Linked DNA regions of Homo sapiens. The protein of the gene in region 4 purifies or fractionates together with the protein of the main gene of each other region. This does not show direct contact. Each region holds a gene or a part of one and is shown on either strand. Other genes may lie near its edges. The genes, in order: MLYCD, TMEM59, ABHD6, PCDHA3, PIGA and ABCB9.

Region 1 (3,500 bases), on a different chromosome or scaffold from region 4:
TTAAAGCCTATTATCCAACTTATGCCTCAAGCAGCAACATTTTTGTGTTCAACAATTTAACTTACTACACACACCTTGTGCAAAATCACAAACCTTCTCATACATTTATGAGCTTCAGAATGTAACTGGGAAGTGTAGCACAGCCCTTTGTCCCTCTGCATTGCATGGTGAGAAACGGCTAAAGCAACCATCGCCGCATTCTGTTTTATGAGCACAAAGGAACACCTATTCTTATCTGGGCCACGCGCCCCGGTCCTTAGGAGGATGCCAGATCCCCCTGGGATGGCAATGGCAGAGGCTGCACAGCTTCCTGAAGATGTAGGTACCACAGCACCAGCCCCGGGCAGGGAGCCAGGCCAAGGGCAACGACAGAATCTTCCGGAGACAGCACAGCAACCCACTCATTTGTGTGCACCCGCACCCACAACCGTCTTGCACTGGGTGCATGTCACGCCCAGGGTGAGGGAAGTTGAGGCCTGGCCTCACAGTGTGGACCGGCTGCGGGACAAGAACACAGTCAACTTTGGCTTTGCTTGGAAAGCTGCTTCAGATACATAACTCCCGGCCCCTCCTGAAAATGATCGTTTTCTTAGCCGGGGCCCTGTGCTTTAGGAGAGGTTTACTGTCAGAGCTTGCTGTTCTTTTGAAACTGGGCCACTAGGCTGAGGACCTGCTCAGAGGCTTTGATGATCTTGGAGCCGAGGTAGGAGGTGCTGTTGGGGCCCGTCTCCTCCAGGAAGTAGCGGTAGTTGGCCATCAGGCCGCAGGAGCCGGTGATGCCTCTGAGGCTCACATCCGCCATCCAGTTGATGCGCCACAGCACCGCCCCGTTCTGCAGGTGGAAGTTGGCCACGGGGTTCAGCGCGTAGCCGCGGTGCTTCTCTCCATACAGGTACCAGGCGCACAGCCTCATCAGCGGAGTCTGCAGCGCCCGCACCAGCTTCTCCGACTGCACCCACTCGCTGCTGCTGAGGAGGAGCTTGAGGGTCTCGTTAATGGGGCCACCTGTGATCTCCGAGATTTCCTTACATTCCGAATCTGTAAAGAGTTCATTCCTCCCATGCTCCTTCGTTTGCGAGTTCAGAAGCCCCAGAAGCCATTTGGTGAAACCAGGTATAGGTGACAGACTTGAAAACACCCCAAGGTGAGGAAACTCTCTCTGTAAAGCATGGTTGGGGTGGAAAGGAAGGCGGAGAAAACACAAATTCAGCAGGTACGTTACCAACAGAGGAGCACCTCTTAACCTACGGCTCACATGCTGCTGTGTAGCGGTCAGAGTGACATCTGATACATGTTGTTTATCTTCTTTCAAGCAGCTTTTCTTTTTTTCCTCTTAGAGTCAGGGTCTTGCTCTATTGCCCTAGCTGGAGTGCAGTGGTGTCATCATGGCTCACTGCAGCCTCCATCTCCTGGGTCCAAGCCATCCTCCTGCCTCAGCCTGCTGAGTAGCTGGGACCACAGGCTCGCGCCGCCACACCCAGCAGGAAATATTTATCAGGAACCTGATGTGTGCCAGACCCTGGAGGCATCCTGACTCCCCAAGGCAGGGCGTCTCTGTCCCCACCATCCCTTCTCATGTCGGCAAAACCGAGACTAGAGTGTTGGGGGACTTGCCTAAAACCAGACAGCTGGCCAGTGGGGAGTGGGGCTCGGTGCACTGCAGCTACTCACTGCAGGCCTTGTCTTTCCCGTACACCATGCTCCTCCCATGGCCACCTGTGAGGCCCCGGAAGCTGCTCTGCTGCTCGGCACACGAGTGGCCAGGGACTGGTGAGTGAGCGACTAGCTGCCCGGCCACACCACGGCGGGTGCAGAACGGGGTAGAGGGCGAGGAGGGGGACGCTGCGGGTATCTCTCCATATCACATGACACGGTTCAATCGTTATTGTCCCAACTAGATAGAGATCTCATGATCATTTCAAACAATCTGCTACTTTCTGATTATAAATGTAACACATGCTCACTATAGATATTTTTTGAAAAAATTAATGACAGAAGAAAATAAAACCATCACACTCCACTACATTGAGAAAACCACTCTCGACAGTCTGCTCAGATAAACTCCTGGTGTTTCTTGATGCGATTTTTGCATGGGTGAGACACTTACTTTATATTTTGCAATATGAATTTATATCGTGAGCATTTTCTCATTATCATTTAAAATTCAAAAACAGAAGATTTTAACCACAGAGTAATATAAAAAAAGCAGCCTATTATGATTTTCCTCACCATGTTCCTCTCGTTGGGCATTCGTGGTAGCTCCCGGGGTTTTTCCCCCACCCCGAACCACTGTTTTTTTTTTTTTTTTTTTGAGACTGTCTCTCCCAGGCTGGAGCGCAATGGTGCAGTCTTGGCTCACTGCAATCTCCGCCTCCTAGGTTCAAGTGATTCTCCTGCCTCGGCCTCCCGAGTAGCTGGGACTACAGGCATGCACCACCATGCCTAATTTTTATATTTTTAGTAGAGACGGGGTTTCACCACGTTCGCCAGGCTAGTCTCGAACTCCTGACCCCAGGTGATCTGCCTGCCTCGGCTGGGATTACAGGCGTGAGCCACTGCGCCCAGCTGTGTTTTGCTTTTGTAAACCCTGACGAGCGCCTCCACGCAGAGGGGCCATTTGTTCCCTTCCAGACTCCCTTTGAGGACTTCTAGGCTGGCCGCCCAGGGGCAGTTAAGCGACACCCTCAGGACAGCTGCTGGGCTAAGGCCCAACTCCCCCGAATCCCGGGATCTGCTCCTCCTCTTCCTGCCTTCCTTACCCTGATACATTTCCCCACCCCGCCCTGCTAATCACCACCCTCAGTGAAGACAGAGGAATGAGGAAACTGTGGGAATGAGCTACGGCTCATTGTTACCCGGGGGAAACATGGCGGCGTGGTAATGAAGCCCACGCCCAGCTGAATCCTGAGGGCTTCAATTAGAAATTGATTATGAATTTACTAGGAGCATGTAAACGTCCCCACTCCACACTGTCGTCCTCAAAGGAAGGCCTCTGCTGCAGCCATGTGCAGCCCCCAACACAGTGAACACCCTGCTCAGAGCCAGTCATTAGCAAACATCTAGCTACCGCACCTAATTATTAGATTCTACTCATTGGAATTTATCCAAGTCCCTGATGAGGCTGGTGGTTTTTGAAAGCCTAGGCCTGGAGTGAACATCAACATTTCTGATGTAGGATGGTTAATATGTTTTTCACAGGGCAGCAAAGAGAGGAGAGTTAGATTAAAAGCCGATGCATTTACCTTCGAGCTGTCTGGTCTCACCTCAGCACTCCCTCACAGGCCATGAGAAGGCCCAAGCTAACAGCACATCAGGTGTCAGAGGCCCTGAGAGTGTGGGCAGGGGCAGGGGGAGGACAGGCGTGGCAGGATGACTACCAGCTGTGCCATCTGGCTGGGACATTTCAGAGTGACACTTACACCAGGATGACACGTGAAATCCAGAGTGTCCTGACCAGGTCAGAACGAGGTCACCCTAGAGAGAGTTGATGACCTCAGAAT
Region 2 (3,500 bases), on a different chromosome or scaffold from region 4:
GCAGTGAGCCAAGATTGTGCCACTGCACTCCAGCCTGGGGGACAGAGCAAGACTGCATCTCAAAAAAAGAAAAAAAAAAAAGAAATCTCAGACACTTTTTGAGAACTAATTATTTGTTGCAAGAAAGTAGAATACCTGTTTGTAAATAGTTATTTTTAAATTATTCTATGTTTTATCTACAGAAGTGCAATTGCATAATTTATCTCGGTCGAAAAAACAAGAGACATAAATCATGTTAATAAAAAAGCTAATTAGAGCCAGCCTGGTCATTTTTTAATGGAGTGTGGTCTCTAGAACCATACAGACCTGGTTTTATTCCCAGCTCCTTGATTACTGTTTGTCCTTGCTGATCACTTAACTTCTATTTATTTATTTTTTAATTTAAAATAATTGAAACAGGGTCTTGCTGTGTTGCCTAGGCTGGTCTCAAACTCCTGGGCTGAATGGGTCCTTATGTCTTGACCTCCCAAAGTGTCGGGATTACATGCATGAGCCACGGTGCCTGGCCTAAATAGTACCATTGAGGGACCTTCTAATTATGAATTTAGCTGGTATTTCATATGGTGGAAGCACTATTTATTGTGTCCTAAATCAGAGGAGATACATGTTATATAAACTTGCCAGTCATTTGGGATACATAGGGCATGAAATATTTACTTGAAATCATTATTTTTGTATATATAACATGAAATACTTAGAATAAAGATATGATTCTTGATAGCTACCAGTTGAGTGCCTGCTCCATACCAGATGTTTCATAATTTGTTAAGTCTTAATACAGTGCCTGGCACATTGTGGATGCTCATTAAATATGTCTGTCTATTAGATAGTACTACATAGTAGTAATGCTATTGTAGATATAAATATATAATTCTCCTAATAGTGAAGATTGACACTCTGCAATTATACAGGCAGTAGAAAATAAATGAATAGTAGTTAGGATTGATGTAAGAGTATTGTCCTTATTTTACAACTGAGGAATTAGATTAAGTAACTTGTCAAAGGTTGTGCAGAATAAGTGGCAAGTCTGAGCTTCAAACCAGGGCCGATTCCTGAAACCTCGGCTCTTTTCACCATGCCATATGGTTTTCCGAAATTGGTACTGGATGACTTATTAAAGGAAAGCATATCTGAGAATGAAATGGCATGTGGTATAGCTCATACTAATGAGCTTATGCTTCCTTTGTGCAATATAAGGAAATATGTGGTGCTCCAGAGACATAAAATAATTCTTTAACTGTTTTACAAAGCCTGCAACAGCTACTCAGATATGAAATCTATCTCAATTGTTAAAATTCTTTCAATTTCATCTTAACAGTAAATGCAGTTGGAACTGAGGTCCAAAAGTGTGCTACCTTCAAAGTTGTATGATAAAGTATATTTAATATTAGACTGCAGGCATCTCTTCTTGATGGATTGTTGCTGCTGCGTAAATTTTACTAATCCTTTTGCTGGAAAGAAATACATAGCTTGTATTTCATTGGTTGCTAACTGGTATATGCACATGCTGTTTCCTTATTAGGTGTCTGCCAGTTTGTACACAGTGGATCACATAGTAAGTCGAGGGGGCTCCCCCATATGCAATAGCTTTTTTTAAATACTTTTATTTTATCAAAGAAAAACAGCTGAAGACATTAGTCTTATTAAGCAGTTAATATTTTACAGTAATGAAGAACCAGATGTCCATCCTGTCTTAAGCTTTCACACGTATACATTGATGCCTGTAATTGTTTTCTATTTTAAAAATCTATTAACACTATTACCATTTATTAAGCACCTTCTACATCCCAGGCACTATACTGGAAATAGCTTCCAAATTATTGAGGAATTTGGAGATAATGGCTGTTCTCTCCTTTTTTGATGAGAAAGCTGAGATTCTTAGACAGGTAAAATAACTTATGCACTCACCCAAAAGGTTTGATCTAGGTCTGGCTGATTGCAGTGTCCTTTCCCATACACCACACTGTTGCTCCTGTGTTTTCATTTAATGTAAGCCCAGTTTTAAAAAATCCCTTCATATAAACATTTTTATAGATGTATACCTTACTTTATCAGGCCCTTGTGTCACCATTTGCCATGTGAAGCTAGTCTGATACTTTTCCTGATAAGCCTGGTGATTCATATAAACAGGGATGTGGCAGAAGTATGCCATTGGTCCTAGGGTACTTGCTTACTCCTATCGCTGTTAAAGTTCTAGTTATATCACCGTTGTGTTTTTTGTTGTTGTTGTTTTTTAAGCAACAGGGTCTCACTTTGTACCCCAAGCTGGAGTACAGTGGTGTGATTATAGCTCACTGTACCCTCAAACTCCTGGGCTCAAACAATCCTCACACCTCAGCCTACTGAGTACTAGGACAACAAGTGTGCACTACCATACCCAGTTATTTTTGTGTGTGTGTTTGTTTTGGTACAGATGGGGTCTCGCTATATAGTCCAGGCTGGCCTCAAACTGTTGGCCTCAAGCAGTCCTCCCACCTCAGCTTCCCAAAGCCCTGGGATTACAGGTGTGAGCCACTGCACCTGGCCTGTCACTATTAGTTTTATTTTTAATTTTTCCCCCCCACAGATTGTAACCAAAGAAAATGGAAAAAGGGTGGTGGTTTTACCTACTAGGCTTTTTTCTTCGTATCACTTTTAAAATAAGGAACTAAAACCTCTATATGGCAAAGGTCTTGAGTATCAACTGGCTCCTATCATTTTTTTCTTTCAGTTATGAAACTTACTGGACGATTTGTAATAAACTTTACTAACTGCTTTCTTCCTAACCTGTTTTCCCCTGAGGAAAAAAAAATACTATTTTTTGGTAACCCTTCCTGTTCTTGAACTCCCTAGGAAGAGGAGTTGTACGCATGTCAGAGAGGTTGCAGGCTGTTTTCAATTTGTCAGTTTGTGGATGATGGAATTGACTTAAATCGAACTAAATTGGAATGTGAATCTGGTAAGATGCTATGCTAACGACATCAGCTGTATGTAACATTGTTTTCTTTGTGATAAGCTTTTGAAGTATTTTCTTTAGGAAATGGAAAACACACTGTTGAAACTAGTCATCTAACATATTGTAATTATTATGGATCTAAGAGTTTTCGTAGCTGCTGCTAGAAATTTCATGGGCTTTAAATTTCATCTGTTTGTTGAGACAGTGTTTATTTTCTGCTATGAATAGGACACCTTTGTTTAACCAAGCATTCTGTCAGACAAATGCAGTATAATTACCCTACTCACAATTCATTACTACCTTTTCACAGATAGTATAATTTTCCTAAACCTTTCAATCATAAGTTCATCGACTTATCTCCAAGTTTTTTACTGAATCAGGCCTTTGACTCAGTATTTAATAGCATATTATTCATTGGTCAGGCCATTAAAATAAGTAGCCAGAGGCTTTGTCATCTGTTAAACCACTTTTCTTTCTTTTTGCTGAAAGCAATATGTTTAACAAAAGAAACCTATAATCAGGACACAATTGACGTTTAACTTTTTAAATAACTATAATGGAATAT
Region 3 (4,717 bases), on a different chromosome or scaffold from region 4:
TTGAGGAGGTTATGGTATGGTGGGGAAGTCAGAGAGCACAGGGGATGAGCAGGGTCGAGGGAAGACCTCGTTCCTGAGTCCCGGGAGAGCAGAAAGGGGACAGGGGAGGAGCATTCACGGATGTGGGAATGGCACAGGGTGGGAGATCATGGCGAGTGCAGGGGCCACCAAGGAGCACGGCGGCTGAGACACCAAGCACATGGGCAGTGGGGGTGGCATGGTGGGGAGAAGGGGCAGAGAGGAGGGCGCTGCTCCTACAGCCACACGGACCATGGGGAACCACAGGCTGTGTTAAGGTGAGTGACTTGATCAGGCTGGCCCTGTGGCTGGTTAGGGCAGCCCAAGCTGTAGGAAGGATGCAAGAGGGGAAGGCTAATTATCACAAGCTGGGGGTATCTCTTTATTTGTTGAAAAGGAGTTTCACTCTTTCGCCCAGGCTGGAATGAAGTGGCGTGATCTCAACTCACTGCAACCTCCGCCTCCCAGGTTCAAGTGATCTTCTGCCTCAGCCTCCCCAGTAGCTGGGATTATAGGTGCCCGCCACCATGCCCAGCTAATTTTTGTATTTCTAGTAGAGATGGGGTTTCACCACGTTGGCCAGGCTGGTCTCGAACTCCTGACCTCAGGTGATCCACCTGCCTCAGCCTCCCAAAGTGCTAGGATTACAGGCCTGAGCCACCGCACCCAGCTGGAGGTCTCTTTGAAGGTCCTCTGGGGATCCCCAGAGCTGTGTGTTTCTTGGCTCTAACCTCTGCAGATATGGGGAATGCTTTTCCAACATGAAAGCCAGAACTTTTCCAGGGCTGATCCTTTTCAAACAACTCATTTCCTCTCCTTTTCCTCTGGGTTCCCAGCTACTATGCCAATCCACCTCCATCTTTTTCCCCAACATCCTCCCTCAGAAGTGGATCCGCATTCACTCCCCTTCTCTTAGCTGCCTTTACCTTCAATTCATCCTAGACAAGAGGGCCCCTCCTCCCCATCCTTAACGGCAAAAGCAAAAGCCCCAACAAACTCAAGCACCTTCTGTGTCTTTGCTCTATTCTCACCAACTCAAATTATTAAAACCAAGATTTTCTGCCCACTGGGGAGTTAAGGTAAGACGATGCCTCAGTCAAGGAAAAGAGTCCTGCAGGGCATCCCTGGACCAGGAAAAGGAACAGCTAATGGGGAGCTTAACAGCTAATTCCAGCCAAGGAAATGGAAACCTCTGCCTTGTCACTCACTCACAGCTAAGGCTGCCACGGCAACCCACTGAGCAGGAATAACACCCAGCTACTGTGGAAACACTCAGAAGAAACGCAGATGCAGTCAATAGGTGAAAACAGCATGAAAAAGTGGAAACTCCCAACTGAGTGTCTTTTTTTGTTTTTTTGAGACAGGGTCTCGCTCTGTTGCACAGGCTGGAGTGCAGTGGCACGATCATGGCTCACTGCAGCCTTGACCTCCCGGGCTCAAGTGATCCTCCCACCTCAGTGCCCCCCAGGTAGCTGGGATGACAGGTACGCACCATCATGCCCAGGCAAAACTGAGTGTCTATCCTGGAGAGATATCAGAAACCACAACTCACAGGCAAAAATACCCATATGAGCTGCTGGCTTTGGCACTGTTTGCTGGTTAGCGTTACAAATCCATCATTCTCCATGGCCACCCAGAGGTATGTGCAACTACTGAACGACCCCCTGATGAGATATGCACATCTGTGGGAACCATTTCAGCGATTTCCTAGATAGAATATTCATATAAATGGTCAAAAACTTTTCCTGGGCTGGGTGTGGTGGCTCACACCTATAATATCAGCACTCTGGGAGGCCGAGGTGGGAAGATCTCTTGAACCCAGGAGTTCGAGACCAGCCTGGCCAACATAGTAAGACCTCATCTCTACAAAAAATAAAAAATTGCTCTCCCTCTCCCTCTCCCTCTCCCTCTCCCCACGGTCTCCCTCTCCCTCTCTTTCCAGGGTCTCCCTCTGATGCCGAGCCGAAGCTGGACTGTACTGCTGCCATCTCGGCTCACTGCAACCTCCCTGCCTGATTCTCCTGCCTCAGCCTGCCGAGTGCCTGCGATTGCAGGTGCACACTGCCACGCCTGACTGGTTTTCGTATTTTTTTGGTGGAGACGGGTTTCACTGTGTTGGCCAGGCTGGTCTCCAGCTCCTAACCGCGAGTGATCCGCCAGCCTCGGCCTCCGGAGGTGCCGGGATTGCAGACGGTGTCTGGTTCACTCAGTGCTCAATGGTGCCCAGGCTGGAGTGCAGTGGTGTGATCTCGGCTCGCTACAACCTCCACCTCCCAGCCGCCTGCCTTGGCCTCCCAAAGTGCCCAGAGTGCAGCCTCTGCCCGGCCGCCACCCCATCTAGGAAGCGAGGAGCGTCTCTGCCTGGCCGCCCATCGTCTGGGATGTGAGGAGCCCCTCTGCCTGGCTGCCCAGTCTGGAAAGTGAGGAGCGTCTCTGCCCGGCCGCCATCCCATCTAGGAAGTGAGGAGCGCCTCTTCCCGGCCGCCATCCCATCTAGGAAGTGAGGAGCGTCTCTGCCCGGCCGCCCATTGTCTGAGATGTGGAGAGCGCCTTTGCCCCGCCGGCCCGTCTGGGATGTGAGGAGCGCCTCTGCCCGGCCGCGACCCCGTCTGGGAGGTGAGAAGCGTCTCTGCCCAGCCGCCCCATCTGAGAAGGGAGGAGACCCTCCGCCCGGCAACCGCCCTGTCTGAGAAGTGAGGAGCCCCTCCGCCCGGCAGCCACCCCGTCTGGGAAGTGAGGAGCCTCTCCGCCTGGCAGCCGACCCGTCCGGGAGGGAGGTGGGGGGTCAGCCCCTGCCAGGCCAGCCGCCCCGTCCGGGAGGGAGGTGGGGGGGTCAGCCCCCCGCCCGGCCAGCCGCCCCATCCGGTAGGTGAGGGGCGCCTCTGCCCAGCCGCCCCTACTGGGAAGTGAGGAGCCCCTCTGCCCGGCCAGCCGCTCCATCCGGGAGGAAGGTGGGGGGTCAGCCCCCGCCAGGCCAGCCGCCCCGTCCGGGAGGGAGGTGGGGGGGGTCAGCCCCCCGCCCGGCCAGCCGCCCCGTCTGGGAGGTGAGGGGCGCCTCTGCCCAGCCGCCCCTACTGGGAAGTGAGGAGCCCCTCTGCCCAGCCAGCCGCCCCGTCCGGGAGGGAGGTGGGGGGGTCAGCCCCCCGCCCGGCCAGCCGCCCCGTCCGGGAGGTGAGGGGCGCCTCTGCCCGGCCGCCCCTACTGGGAAGTGAGGAGCCTCTCTGCCCGGCCAGCCGCCCCGTCCGGGAGGGAGGTGGGGATGTCAGCCCCCCGCCCGGCCAGCCGCCCCGTCCGGGAGGGAGGTGGGGGGGTCAGCCCCCCGCCCGGCCAGCCGCCTCGTCCGGGAGGTGAGGGGCGCCTCTGCCCGGCCGCCCCTACTGGGAAGTGAGGAGCCCCTCTGCCCGGCCAGCCACCCCGTCCGGGAGGGAGGTGGGGGGGTCAGCCCCCTACCCGGCCAGCCGCCCTGTCCGGGTGGTGAGGGGCGCCTCTGCCTGGCCGCCCCTACTGGGAAGTGAGGAGCCCCTCTGCCCAGCCACCACCCCGTCTGGGAGGTGTGCCCAACAGCTCATTGAGAATAGGCCATGATGACAATGGTGGTTTTGTGGAATAGAAAGGGGGGAAAGGTGGGGAAAAGATTGAGAAATCGGATGGTTGCCGTGTCTGTGTAGAAAGAGGTAGACATGGGAGACTTTTCATTTTGTTCTGTACTAAGAAAGATTCTTCTGCCTTGGGATCCTGTTGATCTGTGACCTTACCCCGCAACCCTGTGCTCTCTGAAACATGTGCTGTGTCCACTCAGGGTTAAATGGATTAAGGGCAGTGCAAGATGTGCTTTGTTAAACAGATGCCTGAAGGCAGCATGCTCGTTAAGAGTCATCACCACTCCCTAATCTCAAGTACCCAGGGACACAAACACTGCGGAAGGCCTCAGGGTCCTCTGCCTAGGAAAACCAGAGACCTTTGTTCACTTGTTTATCTGGTGACCTTCCCTCCACTATTGTCCTATGACCCTGCCAAATCCCCCTCTGTGAGAAACACCCAAGAATGATCAATAAAAAAAATAAAAAAATAAAAAAAATAAAAAATTACCCGGGTGTGGTGGCACATGCCTGTAGTCCCAGCTGCCTGGGAGGCTGAGGTGGGAGCATTGCTTGAGCTCAGGAGGTTGAGGCTGCAGTGAGCTATGATTGAGCCACTGCATTCTAGCCTGGGTGACAGAGCAAGAACCAGTCTCAGAACAAACAAACAAACAACCCCCCTGCCCAACAAAAAACAAAAATCAAAACCTTTTCCTGCATTGCTTCACACCAGGGCTAAAACTATGGTGAGGCAAATGAGGCATTTGCCTAAGGCACAAAATTTAAGTGCCAAAAAACTCATAAATTAAGAGAAAATATTTTAGTGCAGTATGTTAAAAAAAACATTAATGGAAAAAGGCACATGATGAACAAAATATCAAAATCATAAATACAGACAGGATCTGACCCTGCACCTGCATGACACATCTCTCTCATCTCACCCTTGTCTCGGGCCTGTTATGCACTATAAGGGTAGGTAGACGATAAATTGCTGGAGGGCAGGGATCCTGGCTGTCTTGGTCCCTACTGTATCCTCAGGGCCTAATACAGTGTTAGGCACATACTAGGTGCTCAATAAATGCCTGTTAACTGGCTTAAATGTGTAGTCAGTCAGTGGGTTT
Region 4 (6,186 bases):
TTTTCTACTTATTGCATGGCACACATTAATAGGCAGGATGCTATTCAGAGAAGTTAACCAGTAATAACATTATAACATTGGCTTATCAAACTTATTTCATATTAGCATCCTTAGTATGGTATGCAAAAGACACTAATGAATAAAAAGTTTTGCTAGTAGGGATAGTTTTAAAATTAGATACCATAATTATTTTCAAGATATTGTTCAGATTGAAAATTATTTTTAACAAGATTTAAAACATTCTTTTAAAATGAATATATAAATATACTATACAACTATTAAATTTTCACTTCATATTGATATTTTAGTTATTAGTAATAAATTTTAACATATAATACAGTAGTATTATTAAAGTAGTATTAAATAAAGTAGTGATAAACTAAAGATGAACAAAGATGCAATTCTAAATGCAATTGTTATTCTCGATTTTTTTCCCAACTGGGAAATCAAGAAACAATAAACGGTATTGCCAAATTAGAGCACAAGGCCTAAAATGAATCATATTCAAGTAAAAAATAAGGATTGAGACTCCAAACAAGTGAATAAGAGAATAAAAGAGGTTCCATAAAAGACAACAGGTGTAATGATCTAATTTTTGAAACTGAAGGTGGAAAAGCATAATCAATAGGGAGTTATAAGCATTAGGTGAACTCATAAAATGAGCAAGTAACATTTGTACTAACAGGTAGTAGGAAGTCCAAATGAAAAGTGGCAAAAGATATTGAAGAAGCATTGTATAGGGATAAGTATAAAACAAGTCGAAGTCAGATTCTCTAAATAATGCAATTCATCTAAGAAAAAATATTTGTCTTATACCCAGGCATTTAGCAATAAAATAATTCTACTACTGCACCTAATAACAAAACAAAATTACAAGTGTGGATATCATAACTTACTGCTGATTTGGTTCAAAAATTAGCAACAAAAATCTTACCGTTTTAACCACAAAACCACAAAACTGGAAAAGTCTAATTATGAATCACATAATTCATACTTAACTATTAATGTATTTCCAGAGGAGTGGAAACATTGAGGAATGAAAAACAAAGACATTTTGGAAAGAATAAATAAAAATTACTCACTTTGGCTGAGAGATCAACGTCCACATCCTGTTTCTCCTCTCTATCCCGGCTAATTGGACAAGGAGGAAGGCTAGGGCTAAAAGCCATGAGGTCGGTCTTGGGCAACCCCTCTCCAGAGCACACCCTCTGCTGCCTCTGCTGCGAGTATGACCAGCTCCCCACCGCGCTGGAGCACACCAGCGTGGGCTTGCCCGGCCCACAGTCGCCTTCGGTTGGCGGCGCGGAGCACCGCAGAGCAGTATATAGCAGCAGTGTGAGCACCAACAGACTGGACACCGCGCAGATGGCGACGATCAAGTACACGTTGACATCCACCAGTGCAGCTTCCGGGCCCGTGGCGCCAGCGGACGCCTGGGACGAGGCCTTGGGTGCCTGGCCACTCTCCACCAGCGACACCAGCACAGTGGCCGTGGCGGTCAATGAGGGTTCACCGTGGTCCTTCACCAGCACCAGTAGGCGATGGCGCGGGGCGTCCACCTCGTCCAGGGCACGGGTCGTGCTGATCTCTCCCGTGTACAGCCCCACGCGAAACGGGATGCGCGCACCGCCGGTCCCAGGCTGCAGCTCATACGAAAGCCACGCGTTGTAGCCTGAGTCTGCATCCACTGCGCGCACCTTCGCTACCACGTGGCCCGCACCCACTGACCGCGGCACCAGCTCGCTCACTGCGCCACCGATGCCACCCACCCGAGGCATCAGCAGTGCCGGCGCGTTGTCGTTCTCGTCCAGCACGAACACCTGCAGCGTCACGTTGCTGCCCAGAGGCGGCACGCCCGCATCGCGCGCACTCACCTGGAACTGCAGCAGCTCTAGCTCCTCGTGGTCCAGCGGCTGCAGCGCGTACACCTTGCCGCTCTCCGCGTGTACCGACACGTAGCTCGACAGCGCGCGCTCCCCCACCCGCCGTTCCACCAGCGAGTAGGACACCAGGGCGTTCTCCTGCGCGTCCGCGTCCCGCGCAGACACCGTGAAGATGTGGCAGCCCGGCGGGTTGTTCTCCTTCACGAACACCGTGTACTCGGACTGCGAGAATGCCGGCGCATTGTCGTTCACGTCGGCCACCTCCACGGACACGCTGGCCGTGGCCCACAGTGAAGGCGAGCCCCCGTCCCGAGCAGTCACCACCAGCTCATAGGCCGACACGCTCTCGCGGTCCAGAGGGCTGTCCAGCACCAATGAGTAGTAATTCTTGAAGGTGGACACCAGCTTGAAGGGGACGTGGGGCGTCAGCGAGCAGGTGACCTGTCCATTGACTCCTGAGTCGCGGTCGGACACGCTGATCAGAGCGATGACTGTGCTAAGTGGAGAGTCTTCTAATACAGGTAAAGATAGTGATTGAATAACTAACTCAGGTACATTATCATTGATGTCCACAATTTCGAGTAGAACTGTGCAGTGATCTGACATTGGGGGATTTCCTTTATCCGTGGCTTCTACCTGGATTTCATATGACTTACTTTCCTCGAAATCTATGTTACCCTTTACACTGATTTGTCCATTGACTGGATCTAAATGGAATTTTGACAGAATATCTGCTGACATGTCCGTATTGAAAGAATACGCGATATCCTTATTTACTCCTTCATCCAAATCGGTGGCGTTAACGGTCACCACTAGGGTACCATTTGGTGCATTTTCGAGTAATCTGACTTTATAGATCGTCCTCTCAAACGCTGGGGCGTTGTCGTTTACATCTAAAACAGTGATCTTTAGTTGAGTCGTGCCAGTGAGCTCTGGTTTCCCACCATCAATTGCTGTTATTAGTAAATAATGCTTAGGAGTGTCCTCTCGATTTAAATTTTTTTTCAACACGAGTCCAAGGGATTTAATTTCCTCATCATTTCTTTTAACGTCCAAGGTAAAATATTCAGTGGAATCAAGACTGTAAGTCAACAACGAATTTGTTCCGATATCTGCATCTGATGCGCCCTCTAGCGAAAACCGAGAGCCAGGCTGTCGGGATTCGGAAATAAACAGATTCTTTACAGCCATTGGAAAAACTGGCGCGTTGTCATTAATGTCCTTCACTTCCACCTCCACATGGAAAACCTGCAGCGGCCTGTCCACGATCACCTCCAGGTGGATGCTGCACTCCGCGCTCCGCCCGCACAGTTCCTCGCGGTCTATCCGAGAATTCACAAACAAAATGCCATTCTGCAGATTTACCTCCAGAAGGTCCCCGTGTCTTTTGGACGCCACCCGGAACAGGCGCGGCACCAGCTCCGCCAGCTCCAGCCCCAGGTCCTGCGCGATGCGGCCCACGAAGGTGCCATGCTTGGCCTCCTCAGAGACGGAGTAGTGGAGCTGGCCGCTCCCCACCTCCGAGGCTGCGAGGAGCAGAAGAGAAAGCAGCAGGCACTGGGCTCCAGGATCTTCTCGCCAGGAGAACAACATTGCAAGTATTTTCCAAATATTAGATTGCCTTTACATTGATCCAAAGTTTAAAAATAATTCGAGTTCCTTATCTTCATTTCTTAAACTCCTCGGTGTTAAATTTTAGAGAGGATGAAGCAAAGCAGTATCTGAATACGTAATGCACGCTGTTATTTCTTTTGTGGAGAAAGACCTTGTGGTGGACAGCGACATCATGTGGCTAAACGTGTAAGTATTAAATATGTAAACGTATCTTCTTTTCCTTGTATGTCGTTTGAACTTTCCCAAAATTTCTAGTTTCAATTGTAATATCCTTCGGTCACTCCTCAAAGTCCTTATATTTTATCTAAATATTTCCTTAGAACTTTTATACTAATTCACTATCAATTGTGCTAATTCATGACATACACTAAAATATTGTGATTCCTGTTTTAACAGTGGACATCTATTGGAAATATTTCCCATGTGACAGCCACTTTTCTATTTGTCTTAATGGAATTATCCCGTTAAATTATCACAATCCTCTGAAATAAGTTTTAATATTATTCGCTTTTTATAAACACATAGAGGTTAAGTAAAACGATATTATCTCTTGGTACGATGGGATTTCAATCTGATTCAAGACAACTTACCATTAACCTCTTTACCACCCAAGTTACATTTTATAGAAAAATCAGATCCTTTCAGATTTATGATCATCAAAACATTGAGATGTTGAAGTATTTAAAAGTGTGTGTGTGCTGTATATATTAAAACATACATATATCTACTTTTATGTTATTACAGCAACTGTTAATTTCTTAAAATATGTACATTTATGGTTTTTTAAATTTGTAGAATGTCTGTAATTCCCTCCCATGCCCCTTTTTCAAGAACTATAGCCTCATCAACTGTCTTGACTGTAACTTACATAAAGATTTCAGAAGTCGGTCCTTTACAGAGAAATTCAAACAGGAAATTTGTTTCCTATTGTGGGAATGTGATTTGTATATTTGTTACACTCACATCACATCAATTAAGAATATATTAGGTTTAATTTTTCCACACTCTTTATGTATTTGAATTTACCTGTATATACTAAAATGTTAACAATATAAAGTAATTACGTTTTTGATGATCTCCACTCCTGATGAATTTCTAGATTCCAGTTTTTTTAAAAGTTGTTACTTGAAAGAATTGATTATTTAACTAAACAGTGAAGGGAGAAAAGTAACCTAGGAACATAAGCCAGTATTTACTCAACATATTTAACACTAAGCAATAAAACATTCTAAAGATATCTGTGAATTCAATGAGAAGCATGAATTCTCGCCGCATTTGGAAGTGGGGCAAAGAAAATTTATGGAAAGAGGTCAAATTTAGAGAAATAAAATAATGTACAAATTTTTGCTTATACCCAGACCATTTAAAAATGAAATCAAACATGTGATTTAAATATTTAGGGGAAAAGTTTTCATTTCAGCTTTTGTTTCCTGTGTATTCATGAAATGGAAGCCAGGACTGCAACTTACTCAGATTTTATCATTCATATTTAGAATAGGATAAATTATCAATTGTTGTTTTCATGAATAAATAAATTAATATTTTGAATTAACTTTTTCAAGCAAGATAAATAAAAATGTAAGTTAATGATATTTGTTAATATCAAACTTACATAATTTCTAAATGATTATATTGTGCTATATTATGAAGAAGTAAGTAAACATTTAAGCATTATTTCTGAAAAGCATGGACCTAAGAAATAATTATAGCTATTAATATTCCAGTTACCACTTTGCTGAATTTTTAAAGATGGTAGCTAGTTTGAAAATAAGAGATAAATTTAAAATTTTTAAACTTCATGGACTTCATAGTAATGAGATGCCTTTGACAACTTATTGTAATACTGCACTTTTCAGTACCTTTAAGAGTTATACTAATTGCAAAATGGAATGTCACATGAGAATTTATAGCAGAGTAGACTCCATACTGATTATTAAGAGATAAAGGTAATATTAAAGGAACTATGAGTTTAGAAGATTGAGCCATTTTGTAGATAAAGTATCAGTGAATAATTTCTACTACCACCTAGATGTCACTTAGACAACCAAGAAAAAATGTAAATAAGAATGTTTTGAAAAAACTTATAGAGCAACAGATTGTGACTCCTGGAGATTTGGATATATGTGAATATAATTTTAGAAGCTTATCATTTACCTATGGTAGAAACATAGTGGTCAAGTATTACTTGGAAATGGATATTCTGACCTAACTATGAAATGGCTAAAGGTAAGATCACTAGTGGAAGTTATTTCTATGATTTATCAATATGCACATATATTTAGAATAAACAGCAAATAACTAAGAACTAAATAGTAGAGGACCGTTTAAGACAGTTATTTTATTGCAATACATCTGCCTTTGGTTGGAAAAGCTAAAAAAGTTCTTTCCAAGTGTAACATTTACTTGTCGAGTTCAGTGTTATAATTACCCAAAATAAATGTTTCAAGTGAAAATGTAGTCATCCAAGACCAGGCCTCATCTTTTGGAAAAATTCCAATTTCATTAGGAATATGGATGCTTCCAGGTAAAATTGAGTGAGCTCACATTAATGGAAAATGTATTCCCACGCATAGAATTAGATGCCAGAAAAAAGTAGTCAATCTCTGCAGTGGGAGGCCTGCACACATTGGCCTAATGATAATGATACTGAAAGGATGATTTATCAACCATTAACATAAAGACTGGGTAG
Region 5 (5,496 bases), on a different chromosome or scaffold from region 4:
TTCTGGAGCCTCTAAGAAGGGTATAATGCAATGGAACCTAGAGACTTTCGACTGCCATGTGAACACAAAACAGACAATGAAAATCTCTGATCCAAACTGCTTTTAAAGCTCAGTCTAACAATATTTTTAAGAACCTTCTGATCTACACCTAGGATATGAGTGGCTGGGCATGGGTGGAGGAAGAGGAGAACTTAGCTCCAGAAAAGCTGAACTCGTGTGTCATCTCTGTTACTTACTGTGTAACCTGGGTGAGTTACTTACCCTCTCTGAGACTCAATTTCATGTAGATAACATCTACCCTACAGTTGTTGGGAGGGTCAAATGAGGTATTGTACCACGAACAGGCTTTATCAACTGCAGAATACAAATGTAGGTTGTCATTACCACTACAGAAGGAAGCAGGTGAGCGTGCCTACACATGCAGAGTGCTGGTAAATCCTGACTGAGAGCAAAACAGGCTTGGAAGAGGAGGCTCAGGAAAAAGACATCCAAAAAGCCTGGATAAGGAAAACTTTGATTTATCCTCTCTCTCACTTAAGACATTCCAGTGGGACTTTGATATCTGGTCCAATAAACTCCTGAGGAAATTAATTTGTTAATAAGGAATGGACCATTAATACAACTACTCACTTTTGGGCTACAGGCATGGCTGTTCCTTTTCAGAATGTTACTTTCTGCAGGGTGCCTGGCATCTGGAGAGGGTTCGATAAATAACTGTTCAATTACTGAATTGAGTACAGGAAAGGCCATACCATCACTCCATTGGTGGTTAGCTCAGCTAGTTAAAATACCACATTAGGGAAGTAAAGGTAACAGGTTTAATCTTTGCATGGGTAGTTAATTTTGCTGATCCTTGATCACACTTGTGTCATACTCTTTCTCAGCTAGCCATCTCAAGAAGATATGCTATTTGGTTAAAAAATAAATTAGGTACAATTCCTAAGTTACAAAAAAACACATCACTAATGTCCCAGGAGGAATTCAGAATACAGAATGCCAGTCGGTTCACATGTTCCTGATTAAAGAATGAAAGCATGTCATTGCCTTCAAACCAGAAAATGAAGTTCAGGCCAAGTTTCCTTGCCAACCTCCACTTAAATGGACTGCTGGGTCAATCAAGATTCTCCATTCCAAACGTAAACTGACCAAGGCCCACATCTAGATTTTAGGCCACTCCCTAGCACACTGGCACACCACTGAATTCAGTGCTTGTCAAGAATCAATTGTTTGTTCACACATCTGTTTGATGTCAGTTGTACTTGTTATCGTCGTGTTGAGTAATTTAATTATCATATAAACTGACAAAAAGAGTATCCACAAAAACTAAGCTGAACAGTTTGAAAAATCCAATAAAGGAATGTCACAGAAAAAAGTTCTTGGCAGATGAGGGGTGTCCTAAACTACTGTATAAAATTGAAAACAAATTAAAACTCCTGAAGCATATCAGTTCATACGCCTTTAAGTTCTGACCCCACCCAAAAGAAACTCAAAGTAGCAATGGTAGATTATGTTTTATGAAGGAGGGTGTGCAAGATGCAGCTGAAACCAGTGGCCCAGCACTCAAAGCCTGCAATCCTACATCAAACTACGGGCAACTCAGTGTGTATTAATATTTTGAGTTTAATTCAAATATTAACTATTTAAGGGGGTATGTATTTATGTATTTTTTTTAATGATTCCCTACTATAAATGACACTTTTGATTAGTGGACAGGTTTTCAAATAGCACTCAGAAGACACTGTTTTTTATAACCAGACTGTGTCAGACTTTTAGTAAACAAGCCTCCACACATTCAACTGCAGTGTCCATTAAGTGCTGTAGAGGTACAAAAAACAGCCTCCTTGGCCAGGTGCAGTGGCTCACGCCTGTTAATCCCAGCATTTTGGGAGGCCGGGGCAGGTGGATCACGAGGTCAGGAGTTTGAGACCAGCCTGGCCAACATAGTGAAACCTTGTCTCTACTAAAAATACAAAAAATTAGCTGGGCTTGGTGGTGGGCGCCTGTAATCCCAGCTACTTGGGAGGCTGAGGCAGGAGAATCGCTTGAACCTGGGAGGCAGAGGTTGCAGTGAGCTGAGATCACGTCACTGCACTCCAGCCCGGGGGGTGACAGTGCGAGACTCCGTCTCAAAAAAAAAAAACCCAAAAACCTCCTTGATAATAGTGGACAGTTACAAACTAGGCTAATAGTTTATAGGAACTATCACTGAACCCTTGCGAGGTTCCCAATGTTGCTTACATTACACAAATGAAAAAACTGAGACTTAGAGATGTTAAGCTACTTGTCCTCGATCACACAGCAGGACAGACCCATCATCTGATCCCAGGACATCTAATCCCCTTTTCTTCATCACTTACCTGCCAATATGTTACTAATGTCTTATACATGATGAAATGAAACAAGCAAGCTACAATACAGTAACGTGCAGAGCAAGCCCACTGATTTTCAGTATATGTACGTACACATAAAAAAGACAGGAAAGCTATAAATCAAAATACTCATTAGGGTATCTCTGAATAATACAGTTACAGCTGATTTTAGTTTTCATCTTTGTGCTTTTCTTAGTTTCCAAAATATCTGCAATGAAAAGACATTACTTTGGCAATCAGAAGAAAAAAGCCATCTGTGAGCTCTGCCCTTTACTTCTTTTTTTTTTCTTTAGAGACGGAGTCTCGTTATGTCGCCCAGGCTGGAGTGCAGTGGCACGATCTCTGCTCACTGCAAGCTCCGCCTCCCAGGTTCATGCCATTCTCCTGCCTCAGCCTCCGGAGTAGCTGGGACTACAGGAGCCTGCCACCATGCCCAGCTAATTTTTTGTATTTTTAGTTGAGACAGGGTTTCACCATGTTAGCCAGGATGGTCTCAACCTCCTGACCCCGTGATCTGCCTGCCTCAGCCTCCCAAAGTGCTGAGATTACAGGTGTGAGCCACCGTACACGGCCTGCCCTCTACTTCTTTACCACATGTGCAGGGCTGTTTTAATTTTTAAAAAGATCTGAAATTTAACAGCATCAGGTTATTCTTATTTTTAGTAACCATTAAAACATCAAAGGTTGGGGGACAGCATTCACCACCATCCTGAAAAATCGCTCTTCTTGGATATATAAACCAATATTAGAACTTTCTTTGCTATAATTTATAGCATTATAAAACCATAAAACAAAATGAAAAGCCAAACAATCATTATATACAAGTATTCAACAGCTTTCTATAGGGAAAAAAGTCTACAATGCAATTATAGCTATCATTTCATTACCTTTTCTGTAAACAAGTCTGCTGACAACAACAATAGTTATACTATCATGCCTTCTAAATGGGTCTGGAGTGAAGTCAGTAGGATCTACAGCATTAGGAATGACGGACACTATTTCAGGATTCAGTGCTGCTCTTAGTACAGTATTTTCCTTACTAGTATAAGACACACAAATGATGTGGTTTGTATCACAAAGAGACACGGTTAGAAGCTTGTTTGTAAGCACCGAGCTGACATCAGCAAATCCAAAAAGGGAATGGTCCGTGAAGACTGTCTGAAGCCCCATTGTCTTGGCGTGGAAGAGAGCATCATGGGCCATAGCAGAAAAAGAACTATGTGAATGGATTATCGTGACTCTCTCCCGAACAAATATGTACCTGAGCAATGGCAGACTGTGAAAGAGGGTCGTGGCTGTAGACTGGTTGTACATGACTTTCAGAGGCAAGTAATAGACTTTGAGGCCACTGGTGAGGTAACGGATGCCTTTTCGATTTCCATAAGCATGGGTGACAATTATAACCTTATGCCCTCTTTCAATCAGGCACTGAGAGAGCTGGTAAATGTGGCTTTCCACGCCTCCCATATTTGGGTAGAAAAAGTCAGATACCATGCATATATTATGGGTACGGGTTCTACATGTGTAAAGACTTCCAGGGCTAACCCGAGAGAGTGTAGCTGAGGCACGGTGGCCATTCCCAGCTCCTCCTCTACAGGCCATGCTGAGACGGTTTAGACATCAGTTCTTAGAGCAACCCAGTTAAGAGATGTGTCCTCTATTACCTGAAAAAGAGTAAAACAGGATCTCAGCTCAGAAACAAAACACATTCCATATTACAAATCCAGATATAGATATTGTTTTAATGTTAATGTAAATTTGTTAGCTTTCCCCAGAATTAAAAATAAAGCAAATCATCAATTTACTCATTTGACATTTACTTGCTTGGCATTTACATACAACAAAACTAGGTTCTACCATGTCTTAATTTTGCCCTAAAAATACTGCTACATGTAACTTTAAATAGTAAGTTTGTTACACCACAGCATATCATGGTTTACCACGTTAACAAACCAGTCTCTTCCAATAATTAAGTATATATACACACATACATACACACATTTATATATTTCCCCTTTACTCTTATACTTTACCAGCTTCTATTAATACTTATTAAATGGCCACTATACATCAGCTACTACATGCTAAGACTCTTCTATATCTTATTGCAGCCTCACCAAAACTCCATGAGTTATCAACTCCATCTTATAAATGGAAAGTCTAAAGCTTAAAGGGGTTAAGAAATTTGTTCAGTTATTCAGTGCTTAGAGGTAACACAATGTAGCAGTCTGATTCATTAGCGGTCATGTCTTCTGGTATTTATGCCCTTCTATAGTATAGTCCCTTCCCGTTGCATTTGGACCTGGTTTAGCCCATAGAAGGTAGTGAAAGTGATGTGCAAATTTTTGGCCTCGGCCTAAAAAAGGTGTGGTGATTTCCAAGGTGTGGTGGTTTTCACTTGTGCACTCTTAGATATCCTAAGCCAAAGTGTAAGGAATCCATCTACTGTGCTAGAGGGACAAGGGAAGAGATAATATGGAGAAGGAAGAGCTCTGAGACTACATGGAAAGAGCCAGAGGCCCAGCCATCCAGCCAACTTACCAGCTAAATGCAGCCTCCTAGTGACCACTGGCAAGACCAAGAGAACCACCCAGCTGAGCCTAGCTCACTGCAGTATCATGAAACATACCAAAATGGCTATTGTTTTACATCGTCTTGGGGTGGTTTGGTAAAAAATAACAGACAACTAAAACAGGCCAGGATCCAAACTCGGTTATACTGGTCCACTGCCTGTTTTTGTAAAGTTTTATAGGCTCATAGGTGTGCCCATTCATTTATGTGAATGGCTACTTTTGTGCTACAAGAGCAGAGTAGCTACAACAGAGACCATATGACCCACAGAGCTGAAAATATTTACCATCTGGTCCTCTACTAAAGTTTGCCAACCCCTGCTCTATAGCTTAGCCACTGATTCAATTACTCTCAAAGTTTTGCTAGCATTACCTTTGTGGTTTACACTAAAACACACCCGGAGCTCGAACTATCTTTTTGAGAGCACCTTTTTCAAATGTCACCAGAGCACATGCTGCACACATGTTCTCCTTCCTTATTCAAAGAGGGTGATTATTTAGGCCGGGTGCGGTGGCTCACGCCTGTAATCCTAGCACTTTGGGAGGCTGAGGTGGGT
Region 6 (5,482 bases), on a different chromosome or scaffold from region 4:
TTTTAAAACTCCTATGTACCTCCTAAAAAGAAGGTAATTCGGTCTCTGGAAGGTTCTTTTGTCTGCCTATGGCGCACTTTTGGGTGTGGGTTTACAAATCAAGGCACTGGAGCTAACTCCATAGGAGAGGGAGAAGAATCTGGAATTCTCAGCCTGAAAGTGCAGGGATGAGAAGAGACAGGCAGATGGGAGAGGAGCTTAGACTGGAACGGGGCTGGGCTGGGGCCAGGAAGCCCCTTGCGAGGGACTTTGCAGAACAGGAATGTCCAACACTGACGCTACAAACTAGAGATGCACAGGCTGGAGACCACCTCTACACATGTGCTTGTTGGTCCTCGGTTTTGTCAAAATAATTTGAGCCAATACATAAAAAACAGCTGATCTCACATGAAAATTGGAATTTCCAACTTCTCTGGAAACATCTGAAGATATGCTAAGTCTCTGAAAACTTAACCCCCTCTGCTTCCTAAAATCAAAAAGGAAGTCCTGAGGTTAACTTCAACCAAGGTTGCAAGTTCCCCTCTGTAGCAGGCTGAGTGGTGGCCCCCAAAAGCTTCCCTTGTCAAACCCCTGAACCTGTGAAGTGACCGTATTTGGAAAAAAGGGTCTTTGCAGATGCAAAGGACCGCTAGATGAGATCAGCCCGGATTATCTAGGTGGCCTCTAAATCCAATGACAAGTGCTTTTATAAGAGAAAGACAAGGCTGGCCAGGCGCGGTGGCTCACGCCTATAATCCCAGCACTTAGGGAGGCCAAGGTGGGCAGGCCATCTGAGGTTAGGAGTTTGAGACCAGCCTGGCCAACACAGTGAAACCCATCTTTACTAAAAATACAAAAATGAGCCGGGTGTGGTGGTGGGTGCCTGTAGTCCCAGTTACTCAGGAGGCTGAGGCAGGAGAATCGCTTGAACTCGGGAGGTGGAGGTTGTAGTAAGCCAAGATTGTGCCACTGCACTCCAATCTGGGTGACAGAGCAAGGCTCTGTCTCAAAAAAAAAAAAAAAAATTGAAATACTACTCTACCAGTTGGCACAGAGCCCTCCTCCTGGGACCCCAGAGTTCTTCACAATTCAGCAAGTAAGAATAACCACCGCAGGGGTCTTCCTGTGTCCGGGCCCAAACCTCCCTGCTGATTGAGCTGTCCTCCTGGGTAATATTTCTTTACTGCATGGATTGGGGTGGGTGTCGGGTGCCTGGGCCCCGATGGAAAAGAACAGGTGGCATTTGTTGGGCCTCAGTTCAGCTGTCCCGGGAAGCACAGAGGCCCCTGGGATTTCAAGGCAACGTCTCTATCCCCCTGCGCAATCCCCGTGGAGACAGGCAGACAGGAATGTCTACACCAGAGACCCTGGGATGGGAGGAGTGCAGATGGGGCTCCCAGACACAGGGGGAGGCCCTGGACCACCCAAAGTCTCTCTGCAACTCCACCAGAGAGGGCTGAGAGGAGAGCCGTGGTCTGGTGGAAAAACCTAACTGGGCGATGAGGCAGTTGGCCCAAGTAGAAGTCAGAGGTTAGGGGTAAGAGGTAGTACACTTTATTGACCGGGTTCTCTCAACATGTTGCAACCTCTGGCAAAGCCAGATCCTGGGCTTTGCCACCATCCCATCCACCAAAGACAGAAGAGAATGCATCTCATGAACATCCACGTGGCCTCCAGACAGCAGAGCACAGGGGCGGGTGTGGGGAGGGAGGCTGCCAGCCAGGGGTGGGTGGACGAGGGGCGAAAGCGCTGGGTGCCGGGCTGGGGGCACCCCTGAGGCCCCTCCAGACCTGGCCAGCCCCTCACTCCCCCAGTTGAGGTTTCGTGTGGTTCACAGTGAGACTGGCTTAGATTGGCAGCGGGCGATGGCAGACAGATGCCCTCCACGCTCCCTACCCGCCCTGGCCAGACTCACAGAGCTGGCAAGAGGGAGAGACGGAAAATCCCGTTCCCCGTGTCTCCCTCCGGGACAGGGAAGCCCCTTCTCTGGAGGGGTAAAGGGGAGAGGCCTAGTCTCTGGACATCCCCCAGGCTACTAAGGAAGGGCCATTCACTCCTGGCTCAGAAGTTTCTAGAACATCTTGGTGAAAGTGCCCGCCATTACTCCCAATTAGAAAAAGGTTTTTGAAATCTAGGAGTTGACTGGGGTGCCTCAAACCAAACAGTAAAAACCCTGGTAAGACCTAGGTTTAAAAAGGCAGCTCTACCTTTGCTTAGGAGGCTAGGGAGGTCCGTGAAGGCGTTGGCTCAGGGCAGCAGGGGTAAGGAGTGCCCTGGGAATGGGGCAGGGACCAGGGGCAAGATGCAGGAAGCGGTGATCCATGGGACATGGCAGGTCGTCTTTCAGTGCTGCAGGCCTGGGCTCGGAGGGCAGCTGGGGGCCTCCGTGGGCACATCTGCCAGGCAGGCACCGGGTCCTCTGCCCCACCGGGAGAAGCAGGGGCCCCCCATCAGGCCTTGTGACTGCCGTTGGCTACAGGCTCGTTGTGGCCAGCTGTGAAGTCTGCGGCGGGCTGAAGCCCCAGCATCTGCCGCTGCACCAGCTTGGCGTAGAGGCCGCCCTGGGCCAGCAGCTGCTGGTGGGTGCCCTGCTGCACTACGCGGCCCTTGTCCAGCACCACAATGAGGTGCGCGTGCTCCACGGTGCTCAGCCGGTGCGCGATGATGAGTACCGTGTGCTTCTGCAGGTTGCCATGGATGGCCTGCTGGATCTGCGGGGACAGTGGGGGCCTGGCTTGCATGGCACGGACGCCCCACCCGCAACCGTGCTTCATGCCACGGCCTATGGGCTGATGCTTAACCTCTCTGAGGCTCAGTTCACAAACGATGGCCAGCTTCCTGGGTTTTTCTTAAAGGGAGACAGCTCAGGGCCAGACACAATGAGGCACCTGGTGAATGGGGGATCAGCTCTACCCTGGCCCTCCAGTCTTCTGGTCCTTCCCTTCCCCCTCCTTTTTTTTTTTTTTTTTTTTTAAGTCTTGCTGTCACCCAGGCTGGAGTGCGGTGGTGCGATCTCAGCTCACTGCAACCTCTGCCTCGTGGGTTCAATCGAGTCTCACGCCTCAGCTTCCCAAGTAGCTAGGGGATTACAGGTGCCCGCCACCATACCCAGCTAATTTTTGTATTTTTAGTAGAGACAGGGTTTCACCATGTTGGCCAGACTGGTCTCGAACACCTGACTTTGTGATCCGCCTGGCCTCGGCCTCCCAAAGTGCTGGGATTACAGGTGTGAGCCACCGCGCCTGGCCTTCCTTGTTTCTTATCTGCCTTCCCCACTGGAATGGAAACACCATGGGGACAAGGGTCTTTGTCTAGTTAGCCCACGATAACCCCAGAATGGTGCCTGGTGCCTGGTGCCTGAGAAGAGCTCAGTAACTCTCTGTGTAACAAATGAATCAATCCGCGCATAGACTGAGGTTGCTAGCCATCTGCAAATACATGACTGGGCCCACCTGACCAGTGAGAATGCGACTCAGAGGGGAAGCACTAGCTTGAGGTCACACAGTTATAAACTGTAGGACGGAGCTGCTAATCCAGGTATCCCCATTCTGTTTTTTGTTTTTGTTTGTTTGTTTGTTTTTTCAGATGGAGTCTCACTCTGTTGCCAAGGCTGGAGTGCAGTGGTGCAATCTCGGCTCATTGCAACCTCTGCTTCCCAGGTTCATGCTATTCTCCTGCCTCAGCCTCCCAAGTAGCTAGGATTACAGGCACCTGCCACCATACCTGGCGGACTTTTGTATTTTTAGTAGAGATGGAATTTCACCATGTTGGCCCGGCTGGTCTTGAACTCCTGACCTCAGGTGATCCACCCGCCTCGGCCTCCCAAAGTGCTGGGATTATAGGCATAAACCACTGCGCCCAGCCTTTTTTTTTTTTTTTTTGTAGATGGAGTCTCACTCTGTCGCCCAGGCTAGAGTGCAGTGGCACAATCTCAGCTCACTGCAACCTCCATCTCCCGGGTTCAAGTGAGTCTCCTGCCTCAGCCTCCCGAGTAGCTGGGGTTACAGGCATGCACCACCATGCCCAGCTAATTTTTGTATTTTTAGTAGAGACAGGGTTTCACTGTATTGACCAGGCTTGTCTCGAACTCCGGACCTCAAGTGATCCACCTGCCTTGGCCTCCCAAAGTGCTGGGATTATAGGCATGAGCCATCATACTGGGCCTATTTTATTTTGTTTTGTTTTGTCTGTTTGTTTGAGCCAGATGGAGTCTGGCTCTGTCGCCCAGGCTGGAGTGCAGTGGCACAATCTCGGCTGACTGCAACCTCCACTTCCCAGGTTCAAGCAATTCTCCTGCCTCAGCCTCCCAAGTAGCTGGGATTATAGGCATGTGCTACCACACCTGGCTAGTTTTTGTATTTCTAGTAGAGATGGGGTTTCACCATGTTGGCCAGGCTGGTCTGCAACTCCTGACCTCAGGTGATCCACCTGCTTCGGCCTCCCAAAGTGCTGGGATTACAGGTGTAAGCCACCACTCATGACCCAGGTCTCCCCATTCTGATGCCTTCTCTTGCCCCACACCATACAGCTCTGCCTGGAGCCTGGAGGCTGGGTCCAGAGTGGCTCCTGGCTCCCCACTCTCAACACCAGGAATTCACCAGCCCAGGAGGCTGATAGTCTGGGAGAGCTCCTGGGGCCCGTCTCTTCTCAGCATCCATCTGCTGGGCGATGGGGGCTCTGGCCACCTGGAGCCGCTCCTGCCCCCGCATTGCCCACCACCCTGTGACTCACCAGATACTCGCTCTCGGCATCCAAAGCGCTGGTGGCTTCATCCAGGATGAGGACTGGGGGGTTCCGCACCAGAGCCCGGGCCATGGCCACCCGCTGCTTCTGGCCACCTGACAGCTGGGCGCCCTTCTCCCCTGTCTCTGTATGGTGGAGGCACAGAGACAATTTAGCAATGGGTGAGGCCGGGCAGCACCGGGGAAGAGTGAGAGGCCCTGCCCTGCAGCTGTGGAAAGGGCGGGCTGGAACCCACAACTTGAAAGCTCATGAAATGATGTTCCCCCCACCCAACTCATAAGGGGCATGCAGATTAAGCCTACATGCAAATTGATAGCAAGTTACCAATTTTCACTCATTCATTTGGCAGAAACCCAAACATCTGATAGCACACAGTGCAGGTGAGGCTGCAGGGAGACAGGCCCTCACCCGTCCTCCTGGAGAAGGGGAGTTGGAGCGAGCCCCATGGCTTGAAGAGCTGCAGCAATAACCCTGGGTCTATGAGTCTGTGCAGTGCAAAGGTTGTGTGTATTCACCACAGATGTGTGGCCTGTGGCCCCGCAAGCCCACCTGGACCAATTTTCCCCATGGACCGACTTCCTCCCATGCACAACAATATAGACACAGGTCACCTGTGACCCACAGCGCTGTTATTGCAAAAAATAAAACAAATAGACTCAAATGTCCATCAATAGGAAATTGAGTCAATCAATTATTATTATTTTAGAGACAGGGTCTCACTCTCTCACCCACGCTAGAGTGCAGTAGTACAATCACTGCT

What was found.
Region 1: the proteins of PCDHA3 (region 4) and MLYCD purify together in Homo sapiens (affinity purification with mass spectrometry; one large-scale study listed by BioGRID and IntAct). This does not show direct contact.
Region 2: the proteins of PCDHA3 (region 4) and TMEM59 purify together in Homo sapiens (co-immunoprecipitation; one large-scale study listed by IntAct). This does not show direct contact.
Region 3: the proteins of PCDHA3 (region 4) and ABHD6 purify together in Homo sapiens (affinity purification with mass spectrometry; 2 studies listed by BioGRID and IntAct, with this or other methods). This does not show direct contact.
Region 5: the proteins of PCDHA3 (region 4) and PIGA purify together in Homo sapiens (affinity purification with mass spectrometry; one large-scale study listed by BioGRID and IntAct). This does not show direct contact.
Region 6: the proteins of PCDHA3 (region 4) and ABCB9 purify together in Homo sapiens (affinity purification with mass spectrometry; 2 studies listed by BioGRID and IntAct, with this or other methods). This does not show direct contact.

What each region holds. Positions count from the first base shown.
Region 1 is NC_000016.10:83,912,615-83,916,114, reverse strand, and holds part of MLYCD (malonyl-CoA decarboxylase, mitochondrial), read right to left. Parts: intron 1,160-3,500; coding exon 626-1,159; 3' UTR 1-625. UniProt on the Homo sapiens protein: Catalyzes the conversion of malonyl-CoA to acetyl-CoA.
Region 2 is NC_000001.11:54,046,705-54,050,204, reverse strand, and holds part of TMEM59 (transmembrane protein 59 isoform 2 precursor), read left to right. Parts: intron 1-2,832; coding exon 2,833-2,938; intron 2,939-3,500.
Region 3 is NC_000003.12:58,288,608-58,293,324, reverse strand, and holds part of ABHD6 (monoacylglycerol lipase ABHD6), read right to left. Parts: intron 1-4,717. UniProt on the Homo sapiens protein: Lipase that preferentially hydrolysis medium-chain saturated monoacylglycerols including 2-arachidonoylglycerol. Through 2-arachidonoylglycerol degradation may regulate endocannabinoid signaling pathways.
Region 4 is NC_000005.10:140,798,488-140,804,673, reverse strand, and holds the start of PCDHA3 (protocadherin alpha-3 isoform 1 precursor), read right to left. Parts: upstream 3,618-6,186; 5' UTR 3,477-3,617; coding exon 1,083-3,476; coding exon of another isoform or gene 1,002-1,082; exon of another isoform or gene 1-1,001. UniProt on the Homo sapiens protein: Potential calcium-dependent cell-adhesion protein. May be involved in the establishment and maintenance of specific neuronal connections in the brain.
Region 5 is NC_000023.11:15,327,960-15,333,455, forward strand, and holds part of PIGA (phosphatidylinositol N-acetylglucosaminyltransferase subunit A), read right to left. Parts: intron 4,034-5,496; 5' UTR 3,972-4,033; coding exon 3,257-3,971; intron 2,689-3,256; exon of another isoform or gene 355-2,688; coding exon of another isoform or gene 262-354; intron 1-261. UniProt on the Homo sapiens protein: Catalytic subunit of the glycosylphosphatidylinositol-N-acetylglucosaminyltransferase (GPI-GnT) complex that catalyzes the transfer of N-acetylglucosamine from UDP-N-acetylglucosamine to phosphatidylinositol and participates in the first step of GPI biosynthesis.
Region 6 is NC_000012.12:122,927,482-122,932,963, forward strand, and holds the end of ABCB9 (ABC-type oligopeptide transporter ABCB9), read right to left. Parts: intron 4,848-5,482; coding exon 4,711-4,847; intron 2,691-4,710; coding exon 2,430-2,690; 3' UTR 1,511-2,429; downstream 1-1,510. UniProt on the Homo sapiens protein: ATP-dependent low-affinity peptide transporter which translocates a broad spectrum of peptides from the cytosol to the lysosomal lumen for degradation.